Linked DNA regions of Homo sapiens. The protein of the gene in region 1 interacts with the protein of each later gene in a biochemical or structural test. Each region holds a gene or a part of one and is shown in the gene's direction. Other genes may lie near its edges. The genes, in order: VSIG4 and TRIM72.

Region 1 (8,181 bases):
CCTAAGCCAAATAGATATGCATGTATAATATATGTATATATGTCAGTATGCAAGCCTAATACATACATATATATATGTTATTTTTCAAAAATCTTTCTCTCCATCTGCCACCTCATCTCTCCTATGTTCACTACCAACCTTCTCACGAAGGTAGCTTCCACCAGCTGAACCTCTCAATTCATTCACCACAACATAACTTTGTAATTTGGGGTCATCATTAACCTCCATATCACCAAATCCCAAGACCTCTCCATTCATACTTTTCCTCCTCAACATCTGTGTAGCAGTGGATCCTGTTGGCCATTTCTTCCACCTCAATATTCTTTTAATCACTGCTATTGATGACACCAACTTATCTTGGTTCTTCTAAGACCTTCCTGAATGATCCTTCTGAGACACCTTTGTTGGCTCTTTTTTCATTCACTCCTTAATTGTAAATGTTCTCAAAGACTCAATTCTTATTCATCTCTGCATGTATTTCTATATTATCAGGAGATTTTATTTACTTCTGTGGCTTCAAATATCACCTGTAGTCTGATGACTCTCCAACCATAATATTATCTGTATTTATTTTTTCCTGACTGCTAGATCCCAGTGTCTAGTTACCTTCTGGACAGCTTCATTTCTAATTTCAGCGTGTTCAAAACTGATCGTACCTTTTACTCACCAAACCTGTTCCTCAAACCTGTTAGAAAACATAGCAGTACCTTTGACTCCTCCTTCTCTTTTACCTCGCATCGTCAAATAATCATCAATATTACCAAGTGCTGTGAATTCACCTACTGAATCAGATACCTTATTAGGCTCTTTCTTTCTCTTCCTATACCCTCATGGTCTCATATTCTTTTTTAAAAAACAATTTCAATCATCTTCTAAATGTTCTCCCCATGTTCATACATTCTTACGAAGTCATCAACTTATTCAATATTTATTGAGTATATATTTTATGTCACTAGATTATAAAATTCAAGAGTGCAGAATTCTACCTGTCTACTTCATTGCTGTTTTTCAGAGCCCAGCAAAGTATCTGGCACAAAGAAGACACTAGACACTAGATGAATACTGTATTTGTTAATGAATGGGGAAAATATGCTATTGCCTTACCTTTGAAAATCCTACCACACTGTTGTCAGAATTATTTCCAAAAAAAATAGACTGAACAATTTTTGCTTCCTTTCTCAAAAGGAAGTAAACCTTTCTCAAAAGGTGTAACCTTCTGTTACACCCCATGGATCTTTCCAACTAAAGAACAAAGCCCAAACCCTTTTAGTCTGTTTTCAGCCTACCTATCCAGACTTATCTACTAATATGTTTCGCCACATCTAAAACGGAGCATGCTGTTTCCTCTGCTAGCAAGAGGGAGAAGCTTATGGTTTTCTCATGTCTTTTCTGAGCAGGTACATGGCCCTGTGCTTGTGTGTGGCCTCCTAGTTTCCCAGAACTGTGTCAGAACTCTTCAAAATCCCTATGGAAATCTTATTCCTCAACCATTTTTAAGGCTATTTTGGTTAGTTTTTTTTGTTTTCTCGCCTATTATCCATTGCCTCAGGCAGCTGTGTGACAAATGCTACCCCATCCCTGGGGAGAGGCTCTTAGCACTGGGTGACCAATAAAACAAGTCTTTTGAGTCAGGTCTTTCAGGGAACCACCAGACAGGCCAAATAATGGCAATTATTCAAAAATGAAGTTTGTTGGGCTCACTCCAGCACCTGGAATGGGGTTGTATGTTCAAGATTACCTCTGAGGTAGAAGGGGTAAGGGGACTAGGAGAAGTTAAAACAGCACAAAGCTTGCTGTTCTTACCAAAACTGGGATATTTTTCTTCCATAAATCCTGTCTAAGGTGCTGCAAACCTTTGGCTATTTTGCAAAATTCTAAAAAAAAAAAAAAAAAAAAAAAAAAGTTGATTACGTCAAATTTTGCATTATTTCACTGATGTTGTTAAAGGGTAAATTTCTGGAGGTTATTATGTCACCATTTTCACTGATGTCACCCATTGCCACTTTCTTTATGATACTTCCCAAGTTTCTCTCAAGAGAATTAATTACTAGGTCTCAGTTAGAAGTTAGTAAAAATAAAATATATTTTCCCATCCAAGTTGACTGACTCTCTGAACTCTAGCTACAGGTTCCTTCGAGATCTATTAATCCTGGGTTAAAAACTCTGTCCTTGATTGATGTATGAAAGATGAACAAGCAACACAGGACTTACCAGCATCATGACAGAAGTGTTGAGGCAGGTCCAAGTATGGACCTGAATGGCCTTTACTTACTTCCTATTTCCCTAGGGCATTAAACTATTCACCAAAGGGTACCAGGTCCCTTCAATCGGTTCCCTTTTCCTTGCAGACTCCTCAAAGCTACTCAAGACCAAGACTGAGGCACCTACAACCATGACATACCCCTTGAAAGGTGAGTTTTGCTAGAGTCTGAGGAAGTAGTAGAGGTTCAAAATGGTGTCATCGTAGCCAAGAAAGGAATCACAATGCCATGGAATGGCTAATAAACAGTCACTTGGTTCCTCAGAGAGAACATAGCAGTAAAGGAATGGAAACAAAAGAAAGGTAACAATGATGAATATATACTCTTTTTTTGTGAAAACTTCTGAGGCAAAAGGAAAGAGAGGGTTAGAATTACTCCCATTGGAAATACAAAAAACAAGAACACTAAATTCTATTCTGCTCCTAGTTTGACTTGCTGTGTGACTTTGGGTACATTACCTCCCCTCGATGGGAATTCTTCTCACTGCCCACACCTAACAGTAAGAAATGAAGATGCCTTATCTCATGGTACTAGTGGTTGATAACATGGTCAGGTACCCTGGAAAGTACAGCACAAATGGCCAGGGAAGGACTCCAACCTTTGCAACCATCTCCTATCTCTCAACTTTTTGAAAGAAGAGAGACATCTCTGACCCTATTCTCTATATTCATAGCAACATCTACAGTGAAGCAGTCCTGGGACTGGACCACTGACATGGATGGCTACCTTGGAGAGACCAGTGCTGGGCCAGGTAGGAATATTGTCAGGATTTCTATCTTTTCTTCTTGACTCTAAGCTTTGTGACCAAAACTTTCCCTTATGCACACTGTTCTACAGCATTGAAATCTGCAAATCATTACCTGCTATGTGCCAAGCAATGGTCAAGGGCACTGAGGATGGGTAAAGTGGGTAGGATGTAGAGAGAGAGATACAGATCCAGAGATGAGCAAAGTCAGAGTGAGGTTAAGGGGAGTGATAAATGTGCCCTTTATTTAGTTCTCTGTTGTCATAGTAATATGCTTTCCAAACATTCTGAGCAAGAATATGGATAGGGACATTATGACATCATGACCTCAACCAGGTAAGGATAATGGCTGAGTGTCATTGCTTGAGCTCTTAACCAGGGCTCTTCAAGCCGCTTGAAGCTGATTTCTGATTCCTCCAAAGCCTTGAAAATTCCCAAGTCAGGGTCTCAGAGATTCAAATCCCAAATAAATCTTTTGTGTTTCACCTGCATCTGATAGTCAGTTGGTATGCCTTCACATGACTACATTGACTGTTGAAATAATAGAACACTCTCACACCAATTGATAATTAGCTGCTCCCCTTAACCCCTGAGCCCTCCATTATTACCTGGGGCTGCCTTGTCCCATTCCTCAGAACTCTCTAGACCACCCCCATGGTCATGCAACAAAAGGTATACCAAGGAATCTCTAAGACTCCAAGTCTACAGTAGGCATCTGTTGTGACTGGTTGGAATTAAATAGTTTGATAACTATCACTCCTGGTACTCATTCTCTGCCTGTGTATAATTGAGAGAGTGGACTTCCAAATGCTCTTTGTAACTCTCCATTCCTGATTGCAGAGTTTTTTGGCTATCCCTTGGCAGCACTCAAACCTGTTTTATGTTCCACATTTGCATTGCCATCTTTGGCTTCAAGATTTCCATAGCTCCGTTCCTCTCCGAGAAGAACATCTACTGGGAGAAGAGAAGTTAGAAATTGCCTCATAGGGAGTTGGTTTGGAAAAATGAGAAAATAACCTTGGGCAAAGTTATTAGATGTTGGGTCTGCGCCCTATTTTCTCTACCAAGTTTTTTAGTACTTGACTCTCTTCAAAAGAGAATATTTCTTCGATTTGTACCAGCTTATAACTTGAGCTCTCTCAGTCCCAACAAGACACTCTGAGGACCACAAATACTGGATTCCTAGGACACGATATCTTAGAGTCTCATGAAAACAAGCCAGTTGCAGCAACAAATCCTAAGTACACTGAGGTTCCTTTCCTCACGCCTCTCTATCCCCCCTGACCTAGCATCTTAGATTCAGAATATTATAGCTAAAAGTGCTTTAGACATCATCCAATCTTTTCATTGAACTTATGGGGTAACTAAGGCCTAGTGACAGTCAAAGTTTTGTCTAAGGTCACTGTATTCATTTTTCCATGGCTGCTGTAAAAACTTACCCCAAACCTAGTATCTTAAAACAGCATAAATATATTATCTTCCACTTCTGGAAATAAGTCTGACACAATTATCACTGAGCTAAAATCAAAATGTCAGTCAGCAAGGCTATGTTCCCTTTGGAGGGTTTGGAGAAGAATTAATTTCCTTGTCTTTCTTTTCTGGCTTCTAGAAGCTACCCACGTTCTTTGGCTCATGGCCCCCTTCCTCCATTTTCAAAACTAACAATGTAGCATTCTCAAATCTCTGTTCCTTTTTACTATGTAAACTAACATACTGACAGGTTCCAGGAATTTGGATGTGAATATCTTTAGAGGACCATTATTCTGCCTACCATAGTCATACAGAAAGTAAATAACAGATCTAGGACTGGAAGCCAAGTCCAGTTGATTCTTTCAGCTTTTAGGCATAATGGGAATATGTGTCTCAAGTGGCTCAGTGGAAATATGTTTTGAGAAAGAAGGAAGCTGGGGACTTGACCAGAGCGTGTGATGGGAAGAATCTTTGTGGCTAGAAGTAACTGACCAGAATCTTAATAAGGTATGTAGCATTTTTGGTGAAGCTGGAAAGTCAGGATATTATTTTCTTTTTTCTAAGGGAAGGTGAAAACCTTCTGTCTTGGCCCTATAGAAAGCATAGACAACTAGCTCAAATGCCCAGGCCAATCAGCCCACCAGTGAGTCTGGAAGAACCTGTTTACACATGGCATCTCTTTCTCAAGTCTTTCTCATGGGACTGGAGTTTTTTCTCTCTGGCTAGCTAAGAAGGTTAGGAGAATATGGAAAATGAAAAAGAAAAAGGCCTGGCTTAGTCTAGGCTGTTTCTTAGAGTTTTTGTTTCTGGCCTTATTTTCAATCAAATACCACTTGATCTTGTTTTACCCTCTAGGAAAGAGCCTGCCTGTCTTTGCCATCATCCTCATCATCTCCTTGTGCTGTATGGTGGTTTTTACCATGGCCTATATCATGCTCTGTCGGAAGACATCCCAACAAGGTTAGTGATGAATATGAGAAGGTGGCTTTGGCTCATTTGTTCTTTCTGTCAGTATACTTGAGCCTAAATTCTGTATCAGGCATTGTGTTAGGCACTTCAAGAAGCTCCCAGCCTAGTTTGGGAGTTAAGGTTGGGGTGCAGGGAGGCAGATGTTCGAGCAAACAATGGCATAAGACTTACAGAACTAAATGCACTAGGCTTTGGTACTCAGTGAAGTACAGCCATCTTTCTAACGAGTCATCTTGTAATGATGCAAGAGAAGGAGAAGTCACAATCCCTGGCCTCAAGTTGCTCACAATTTATTTAGGAGATTCAAGGTAGAAACATGGAATTTATCAATGACAATACATAGCAATAGAGGCTATGAGCTCAAAAACTAGAGAAGACAATTAATGCTAAAGGGATCCAGAGGAGAAGAGAGTAATTTAAGGCTTGGGTAATTAGCAAGGGATTTCAGAAGGAAGAATATCTTAGACCACATTTTGGAGGATGAAAACAAGTTGTAAGGAGACAGTATTTCAGGAAGAGAGAACTACATCAGCATAGTTGTTAGGGCCTAAAAGACAACTGAGAGTGGGGTCATCAATAAAGAAAATTTCTGTAGATGGGCAACAGGGAAGTACAGTGGGAAATGAAAGCTTATTCCTGATTATAGAAGGCCTTAAATGCCAGGTTAAATAATTTGGACTTTCTTCACTAGGCCTTGCAAGGGCACTAAATTTACCAAATTTTTCAAGCATGGAAGTGGCATAATGACAGCACAGTTGTCAGAGCCATTTAAAAACTATGAACCAACCGAGGAGGAAAAAAATTGGGATGCTTGTTTCTAAAAGAAAAAAATACTAGCTGTCTCTCAATGCCCAGTGCACTAGTCATGTTGCCTAGCATCAATTTGTCTTATTCTCTGTAGTATCTCTTACTCCCAAATAGCCTGGTTACTACCATGGATCTGATGGATTTCCATCACCAGAAGGGAGCCTTGAGTATCTCCTTCTCCCAGGTTTCAATTATAAGCTCTGGCTTTTGCCAGTTAGCATGTTTATCACCATGAGGCTGAACTTGATAGCACATGACTACAAACCCCAGGGGCACTAAAATGAAAGCATTTGCATATAGCCTTGATGAGGCTGGGCATAAGCGGTAACCACATTAAATTGTTTCTCTCTCAAAAACCTTCCATGGCTTCTTATGGCCCAGGGGATAAAGGTCAAAATGTAGCATTCTATTCAAGGCTCTCTGTGATGTGGGTCTAGCCAATTTTCTCAACCCACCACTTCCTTATACCTAGTCTCATTTCCAAAAATTCCTCTTTCCTATCTCTGTATAAGGGAGACAGCCTCAGAGCATCAATTTAATTTAACATAATTACTGAGCACCTATTGTGTGACAGGTGCTGAGCATATTAAGATGAAAAAGACACGACCCTTGCGGTACAGGTGCTCATAGGCCAATGGGCGAGTAAGACACAGAAATGCAGGGCTCTACCATAAGGCAGAAGTCCTGTGGCTTCCCTTGTTTACTTTGTTGTCATTTAATGCTTGCATTTCCAGTTGCATCCCTGAAAAATTATAAGCACCTAGAGGGCAGTACAAAGAAATATCTGTCTTTGCACCAACCTAAGCCTTTGAGCCTGTACGGAATATAGGACACTCCTCCTCCACAGACACTAGGGGGCAATGGTAACCAATACCATGGTTTTTCCTGGGTATATAGTGGGGGTGAGTGCATTTGGGAATGTCTTGGGTCACGGCCATCAGCATCAGGCTAATCCAGTCCCTTCTTCCTGGTATGTGGCCTGACAGTCAAGTTTCCCACAAGGACTCTCTGGGGATCCTTGGGGGAGATTCCTGGGTAAAGAGCAAGTCCAGTTCTAGTGCCCTCCCCCAACCCATACCGAGAAACTGCTCCAGCCCAATATCCTGAGTCCAAGATGACAAAAAGGATAGTGACCAAATGTGCTTCCCCTTCTTTTACCTGATAAATTTGCATCTCTGTGTTTCAATTCACCTCCCCAATACCTCCCAGTTGTTGGAAAGCTAAGACATATTAAAATCCCCTCCTCTGTACCCTTCCCTCATCTTTTGACTGGTACCCAGGATCCATGATTGACCTTTGTCCACTTGCCATGAAAACTTCTGACATGATTCCTCCTTTTTTTCTAGAGCATGTCTACGAAGCAGCCAGGTAAGAAAGTCTCTCCTCTTCCATTTTTGACCCCGTCCCTGCCCTCAATTTTGATTACTGGCAGGAAATGTGGAGGAAGGGGGGTGTGGCACAGACCCAATCCTAAGGCCGGAGGCCTTCAGGGTCAGGACATAGCTGCCTTCCCTCTCTCAGGCACCTTCTGAGGTTGTTTTGGCCCTCTGAACACAAAGGATAATTTAGATCCATCTGCCTTCTGCTTCCAGAATCCCTGGGTGGTAGGATCCTGATAATTAATTGGCAAGAATTGAGGCAGAAGGGTGGGAAACCAGGACCACAGCCCCAAGTCCCTTCTTATGGGTGGTGGGCTCTTGGGCCATAGGGCACATGCCAGAGAGGCCAACGACTCTGGAGAAACCATGAGGGTGGCCATCTTCGCAAGTGGCTGCTCCAGTGATGAGCCAACTTCCCAGAATCTGGGCAACAACTACTCTGATGAGCCCTGCATAGGACAGGAGTACCAGATCATCGCCCAGATCAATGGCAACTACGCCCGCCTGCTGGACACAGTTCCTCTGGATTATGAGTTTCTGGCCACTGAGG
Region 2 (7,126 bases), on another chromosome or scaffold:
GTGGAGCTGCCGCCCCCGGGGATGTCCCGGGAAGGAGACTGATCTGGCAGCTCCTATTCAACCCTGTGGCTCCTGCTGGGAGGGGACTCTGCAAACACCGCCTAGAGGGTCCCCCAGTTTCCCCTGGGAGAGTGGGGGCGCCAAATTGTTGAGGTGGGGATTGCTGTTCCCAATCTGCAGAGGAGGAAACAGGTTGCAAGTCATTGAGGCAGGAATGGAACTGATTCCATGGTCAGGCACCTCCCAGCAAAGAAGTGGCTTTGTAGCCTGGCATGGTTGCTCATGCTTGTAGTGCCAGCTACTCGGGAGGCTGAAGCAAAAGGATTGCTTGAGCCTAGGAGTTCGAGTTGTGATTCTGCCACTGCACTCCAGCCTAGGCAATCCTGTCTCCAAAAAAAAAAAAAAAAAAAAAAAAAATGGCTTTGGCAGGAGTATTGGGAGCTCTCCTATATTTGCATATTTGCATTTGAGGTCTTGGGTAAGATCTAGACCACAGAATGGTTGGTCTGTGCAGGGGACATTTTTTTTTTTTTTTTTGAAATGCAGTCTTGCTCTGTCGCCCAGGCTAGAGTGCAGTGGCACATTCTTGGCTCACTGCAACCTCCGCCTCCCTGGTTCAAGTGATTCTCCTGCCTCAGCCTCCCGAGTAGCTGGGATTACAGGCACTTGCCACAGCGCCCAGGTAATTTTTGTATTTTTAGTAGAAATGGGGTTTCACTATCTTGGTCTGGCTGGCCTTGAACTCCTGACCTCGTGATCCACCCGCCCTGGCCTCCCAAAGTGCTGGGATTACAGGTGTGAGCCACCACGCCCGGCCAGCAGGGGACATTTTAATTAAATTTCCTGCCCCCTACTCCAAGCCCATGTGTGTACAGGCAGGCTGACTTGGTGGTCAGGCTGACAGGCTGACTGAGGCTGATGTTCTGCTTTTAAGTAAGAGAGGAAGCCCAGGAGTAGGGGTAGGTTGCCTTTCTTCTTTCATATATCCTTCATGTACCCCCTGAGGTCTGTTGTGTGCCAAGCTCTGTGCCTGCCTGTCTGGTGGGAGAGACCAAACCACACTGATGTTTGTCATCCTCGCAAAGACCTGTGCTATGGGGCTGACTGCTGAGCAGAGGGGATCAGGGAAGGCAAGGCCAGGGAGGGGTCAACAAAACAGACAAGGGGCTGGGGGTGTGGCGGTTCATGCCTGTAATCCCAGCATGCTGGGAGGCTGAGGTGGGAGGATTGCTTGAGGCCAGGAGTTGGAGACCAGTCTGGGCAATATAGTGAGATTGTCTCTACAAAAATATTTTAAAAAATCATGGCCAGGAGTGGTGGCTCATGTCTAATCCCAGCACTTCGGGAGGCTGACGTGGGTGGATCACCTGAGGTCAGAAGTTTGAGACCAGCCTGGCCAACATGGTGAAACCCTGTCTCTACTAAAAATACCAAAATTAGCCAGGCGTGGTGGTGCACCAAAATTAGTCCCAGCTACTTGGGAGGCTGAGGCAGGAGAATCGCTTGAACCCAGGAGGTGGAGGTTGCAGTGAGCTGAGATTGTGCCACTGCACTGCATCCTGGGTGACAGAGCGAGACTCCAACTCAAAAAAAAAAAAATCAGAAAATTTGCTGGGCACGGTGGTGTGTGCCTATAGTTCCAGCTACTTGGGAGACTGAAGTGAGAGGGTCAATTAAGCCTGGGAAGTTGAAGCTGTAGTTAACTGTGATCATGCCACTGCTCCAGCCAGGGCAACAGTGTGAGACCCTGTCTCAAAACAAAACACCAAAATAAATAAATAAAAAACCGCACCAAAATAGACAAGGGGCAGGGGAAGCATTCGGACCTCAGGAGTAGCACTGGCTGGGGCTGGGAGGCATGTAAGTGGGTTTGGGGATGGGAAGATGGCTGGAGGAGGAGCTGGCATTGAGGTTGAGCCACAGAGGGCAGGTTTAGGATGGGAGGTGTGGGTTTTGGGTGGGTGGCATCCCCATCACTTCTCCATGCCTCGACCCCCAGACACAGCTGCCACAGCAGAAACTGCAGCTGCAGGAGGCATGCATGCGCAAGGAGAAGAGTGTGGCTGTGCTGGAGCATCAGCTGGTGGAGGTGGAGGTGAGGACTTCACAGGGCCATGTCTGAGGGCTGGGGGCCAGGCTAGGGGTCTCCAGCCAAGAGTCTTTATCCCTTCAATCACTGCCCCATCCCTGCAGGAGACAGTGCGTCAGTTCCGGGGGGCCGTGGGGGAGCAGCTGGGCAAGATGCGGGTGTTCCTGGCTGCACTGGAGGGCTCCTTGGACCGCGAGGCAGAGCGTGTACGGGGTGAGGCAGGGGTCGCCTTGCGCCGGGAGCTGGGGAGCCTGAACTCTTACCTGGAGCAGCTGCGGCAGATGGAGAAGGTCCTGGAGGAGGTGGCGGACAAGCCGCAGACTGAGTTCCTCATGGTGAGCACTGGGTGACCCCCCTCCCTGCCTCAGCCCCCTGCTCAGGGCCCAGAGACCTCATCCCATTGTCAGATAGGCCCAGAGAGGGGCAGGGATAAGCCAGCAGCACACAGCCGGGAGGGGCAGGCCTCAGGACTGCTATATGGTTGTTTAGGTTGAGCACTGCATAAGGACATTGTATTAAGTGAGCACTATTCATATCATAGACATTGTAGGTTTATATATTTATTAGGACACTCTTATTTTTATTTTTTATTTTTTGAGATGGAGTCTTACTCTGTCACCCAGGCTGGAGTGCAGTGGCAGGATCTTGGCTCACTGCAAGCTCCGCCTCCTGGGTTCATGCTATTCTCCTGCCTCAGCCTCCCGAGTAGCTGGGACTACAGGCACCCGCCACCACGCCTGGCTAATTTTTTCTATTTTTCAGTAGAGACAGGGTTTCACCGTGTTAGCCAGGATGGTCTTGATCTCCTGACCTTGTGATCCACCTGCCTTAGCCTCCCAAAGTGCTGGGATTACAGGCGTGAGCCACCGCGCCTGGTCTTTTTTTTAAAGGCAGGGTCTCACTCTGTCACCCAGGCTGGAGTGCAGTGGCATGATCATAGCTCACTGCAGCCTTGTAGGCTCAAGCAATCCTCCAATCTCAGCCTCCCATAGCTGGGACTACAGGCGCTTACCTGGCTAGTTTTTGTATTTTTAGTAGAGATGGGGGTCTCATTATGTTGCCCAGACTGGTCTCAAATGCCTGGGCTCAAACAATCTGCCTGCCTTGGCCTCCCAAAGTGCTGGGATTACAGGCATGAGTCACCGCACCCGGCCTATTAGGACAGTTTTCTAACAGGTGGAATCAGAGTTTCTTGGAGGCAAAGATACCTTTTTGTAATCCACATAAAAGTGAAGGGGTAGGGGTGGCCTTGAGTTCTAGGTCTCTTTTGCGTTTTTTTTTTTTTTTTTTTTTTTTTTTTTTGAGACAGGGCTTTGCTCTGTTGCCCAGGCTGGAGTGCAGTGGCATGACTTCGGCTCACTGAAACCTCCTTCTCCCGGGTTCAAGTGATTTTCGTGGCTCAGCCTCCCAAGTAGCTGGGATTACAGGTGCCTGCCACCATGCCCAGCTATTTTTTTTGTATTTTTAGTAGAGATGGGGTTTCACCATGTTGGCCAGGCTGGTCTCGAACTCCTGGCCTCAAGCAATCCACACACCTTGGCCTCCCAAAGTGTTGAGATTACAGGCATGAGCCACCTCGTCTGGCCTCTTTTAGCTTTTCTGATTCTTTCTGACGTTGCACTCAGCATTCCTAGTTGTCTACCCCATCCTCAAAAGTTTCCAGTGTCCCCACCATCGGCTTCACCACCATTCTCTTTTTCTCTCTCTCCAGAAATACTGCCTGGTGACCAGCAGGTGAGAGCAACCTGGCCCTGTCCCTTTGCCCGACTTGTCCCAGTCTTCTAGGGACACCAGCCGGCTCACTCTCCACTCACTATTGTGCCTGCACACCCGCAATTCAGTCTGCTGCCCCACCCCTGCCTGAACACAAGGTTGTAGACAGAAATGATCTGGAAGGATCCTTTCACTCAGGGACCTCCTAGATTGGTGCCGTGAGACACATGTGGGTGGGGACACAGGCGTCACTGTGTGCTCAGTGTGGCCGTTGAGGGAAAGAGGTGGCCAGGGATGGAGTGAATGTTTGAGTTGGGGCCTGGAGGGATGAACAGGAGCTGGCTAGGCAAAGCGTTGGGAGAAGAAGGGCATTGTGAGGAGAAAGGCATTGCGGGGAGAAGGGCATTGCTGAGAGAAGAAGGGTATTGCTGGGAGAAGAACATTGCTGGGAAAAGAAGGGCATTGCTGGGAGAAGGGCATTATGGGGAGAAGGGCATTGCGGGGAGAAGGGCACTGCTGGGAGAAGGGCATTGCTGGGAGAAGGGCATTTCTGGGAGAAGAAGGACATTGCTGGGAGAAGAAGGGCATTGCTGGGAGAAGGGCATTATGGGGAGAAGGGCATTGCAGGGAGAAGGGCATTGTGGGGAGAAGGGCATTGTGGGGAGAAGGGCACTGCGGGGAGAAGGGCATTGCTGGGGAGAAGGGCATTGGGAGAAGGGCATTGCTGGGAGAAGGGCATTGCTGGGAGAAGAAGGGCATTGCTAGGAGAAGGGCATTGCTGGGAGAAGAAGGGCATTGTGGGGAGAAGGGCATTGCGGGGAGAAAGGCATTGCTGGGAGAAGAAGCGCACTGTGGGGAGAAGGGCATTGCTGGGAGAAGGGCATTGCTGGGAGAAGGGCATTGCGGGGAGAAGGGTATTGCTGGGAGAAGAAGGGCATTGCAGAGAGAAGGGCATTGTGGGGAGAAGGGCATTGCAGGGAAAAGGGCGTTGCTGGGAGAAGGGTGTTGCTGGCAGAAGGGTGTTGCTGGGAGAAGGGCATTGCTGGGAGAAGGGTGTTGCTGGGAGAATGGCATTGCTGGGAGAGGGGACAGCCAGCGAGAGGGCTGGCGAGTGGGAGGGAAGAGGAAGCTGCGGTAGTAGGTGTGTGCACACTGGCGAAGCTGAGAGGCTTGGACCTTATCCCAACAGAAGGATTAAAAGAAAATGTAGTTGGGCCGGGTGCAGTGGCTCACGCCTGTCATCCAAGCACTTTGGGAGGCTGAGGCGGGCAGATCACCTGAGGTCAGCAGTTCGAGACTAGCCTGGCCAACATGGCAAAACCTCACCTCTACTAAAAACACAAAAATTAGCCAGGCATGGTGGTAGGCGCCTATAATCCCAGCTACTTGGTTGGCTGAGGCAGGAGAATTGCTTGAACTGGGGAGGCAGAGGCTGCAGTGAGCCAAGATCATGCCACTACACCCCAGCCTGGGTGATAGAGCCAGACTCAATCTCAAAAAAAAAAAAAAAAGACCAAAACCAAATAAACAGTGGTAAAATAATACATGTAACATAAAATTGACAATTTTCAGCTTCTTCTTCTTCTTTTTTTTTTTTTTTTAGACAGGATCTTGCTATGTTGCCCAGACTGGACTCAAATTTCTGAGCTCCAGTGAGCCTCCTGAGTCAGCCTCCCTGAGCAGCTGGGACTACACTCTACCTCGCTCATTTTAAGCATTTTTAAGTGTGCATTTAAATTCAGTGGTGCTAAGTACATTCACATTGTACAACCATCACCAGTGTTTATCTCCAGAATTTTCTCATCTTCCCAAACCAAAACTCCAAAGGAAGAGTTTTAAGCAGGGGTGCGATGTGGGGAGATCCTGGAATCCCCCCAGCCCTTGTCCTCCCCCCTCACACATGCCTCCCCTTCCCCTCCCCACCCCCAGGCTGCAGAAGATCCTGGCAGAGTCTCCCCCACCCGCCCGTCTGGACATCCAGCTGCCAATTATCTCAGATGACTTCAAATTCCAGGTGTGGAGGAAGATGTTCCGGGCTCTGATGCCAGGTACCGGGAGGGACTGGCTCAGGTTTGTGTGTGACCAGGCAGTTGATGGGAGGCCCTAGCCACCCTGGAGAGGCCTCCCAGTCCCAACTGGGGAGGCCACTGAAGGAGGTACCCATTGCCCCTTTGCCTCTGGACTGCCGCTGCAGTCCTCTAACCTGTGTTGGGAGGAGGGCCTTTGAGAGCATGGGGTTTGCAGTGGGTGACTGACATGAAAATGCTGCTGCTGTTGGTGGCACGGGACGCTGGGGCCTAGGTCTGAGCCACTGACTTGCTGTGTGATCCTTGGTCAGTCTCTGCCCCTCTCTGGACGGTGGAGATGATAAATCCTGCCAATTGGGGACTGAGGCTCTGCAGAGCTCCTGGAACCCTGGGGACTGGCCTGGGTCAGAGAGTGACTCTGGCGGCCTGTGGCTGGGGAGGCCCAAGGGCTCAGTTCCTCCCCCCAAGAGCTGGATGATGCAGGTTACAGAGCTCTGGGACATACACATTGCTGGGGCAGCCCTTCCTGCCTCAGCGCAGGTGGGAATGCAGACAGCCTCATTTTATTCAAGATAAAACTAAGGCTCAGAGACTGGGTCTAGGCTGATGTGAAGATCAGGCTCCTTGACCTTGGGCCTTGGGCCTTGTCTGGGCCTCAGATGGTGAGTCCCATGCCTTGTATCAATTTAGTCCTGTTGGCCAGGCTCGGTGGCTCACGCTTGTAATCCCAGAACTTTGGGAGGCCGAGGTGGGAGGATCACTTGAGCCCAGGAGTTGGAGACCAGCCTGGGCAACATAGTGAGAACACCTGTCTCTACAAAAACTTAAAAAAATTAGCCAGGTGTGGTGGCACGTGGCTGTAGTCCCAGCTACTTGGGAGATGGGAGATGGGAGGATTGCTTGAGCCTGGGAGTTGGAAGTTGCAGTGAGCCTAGGTTGCACCTGCGCTCCAGCCTGGGCGACAGAGTGAGACCCCGCCTCAAAAAAACAAAAAACAAAAACAAAAAACAACAACAATAACAACAACAAAAACAAAAAGAAAATGCAGGCCTGCCTGCAACCCTGGAGGGAAGCAATCATGGCCTCATCTCACAGCTGGGCAAACTGAAGTTGAGCCAGGTGTGATCTTGTGGCCCAAGCCCAGTGAGCAGAGATGCCAAGAGGATTAGGGGAGAGAAAGCTGGCCTGCAATTGGTTGGGAGAAGACCCCAGCGAGGCAGAAACCTAGGGTTTTCTGACCGTGTTCTCTCTGGCAGCGCTGGAGGAGCTGACCTTTGACCCGAGCTCTGCGCACCCG

Evidence for each region.
Region 2: the proteins of VSIG4 (region 1) and TRIM72 form a complex in vitro, tested with the Homo sapiens proteins (one study listed by BioGRID).

The regions. Positions count from the first base shown.
Region 1 is NC_000023.11:66,022,280-66,030,460, reverse strand, and holds part of VSIG4 (V-set and immunoglobulin domain-containing protein 4 isoform 1 precursor), read left to right. Parts: intron 1-2,348; coding exon 2,349-2,411; intron 2,412-2,934; coding exon 2,935-3,012; intron 3,013-5,331; coding exon 5,332-5,436; intron 5,437-7,598; coding exon 7,599-7,620; coding exon of another isoform or gene 7,621-7,624; exon of another isoform or gene 7,625-7,960; coding exon 7,961-8,181. UniProt on the Homo sapiens protein: Phagocytic receptor, strong negative regulator of T-cell proliferation and IL2 production. Potent inhibitor of the alternative complement pathway convertases.
Region 2 is NC_000016.10:31,217,096-31,224,221, forward strand, and holds part of TRIM72 (tripartite motif-containing protein 72), read left to right. Parts: exon of another isoform or gene 1-40; intron 41-1,999; coding exon 2,000-2,095; intron 2,096-2,193; coding exon 2,194-2,424; intron 2,425-3,800; coding exon 3,801-3,823; intron 3,824-5,731; coding exon 5,732-5,850; intron 5,851-7,085; coding exon 7,086-7,126. UniProt on the Homo sapiens protein: Muscle-specific E3 ubiquitin-protein ligase that plays a central role in cell membrane repair by nucleating the assembly of the repair machinery at injury sites.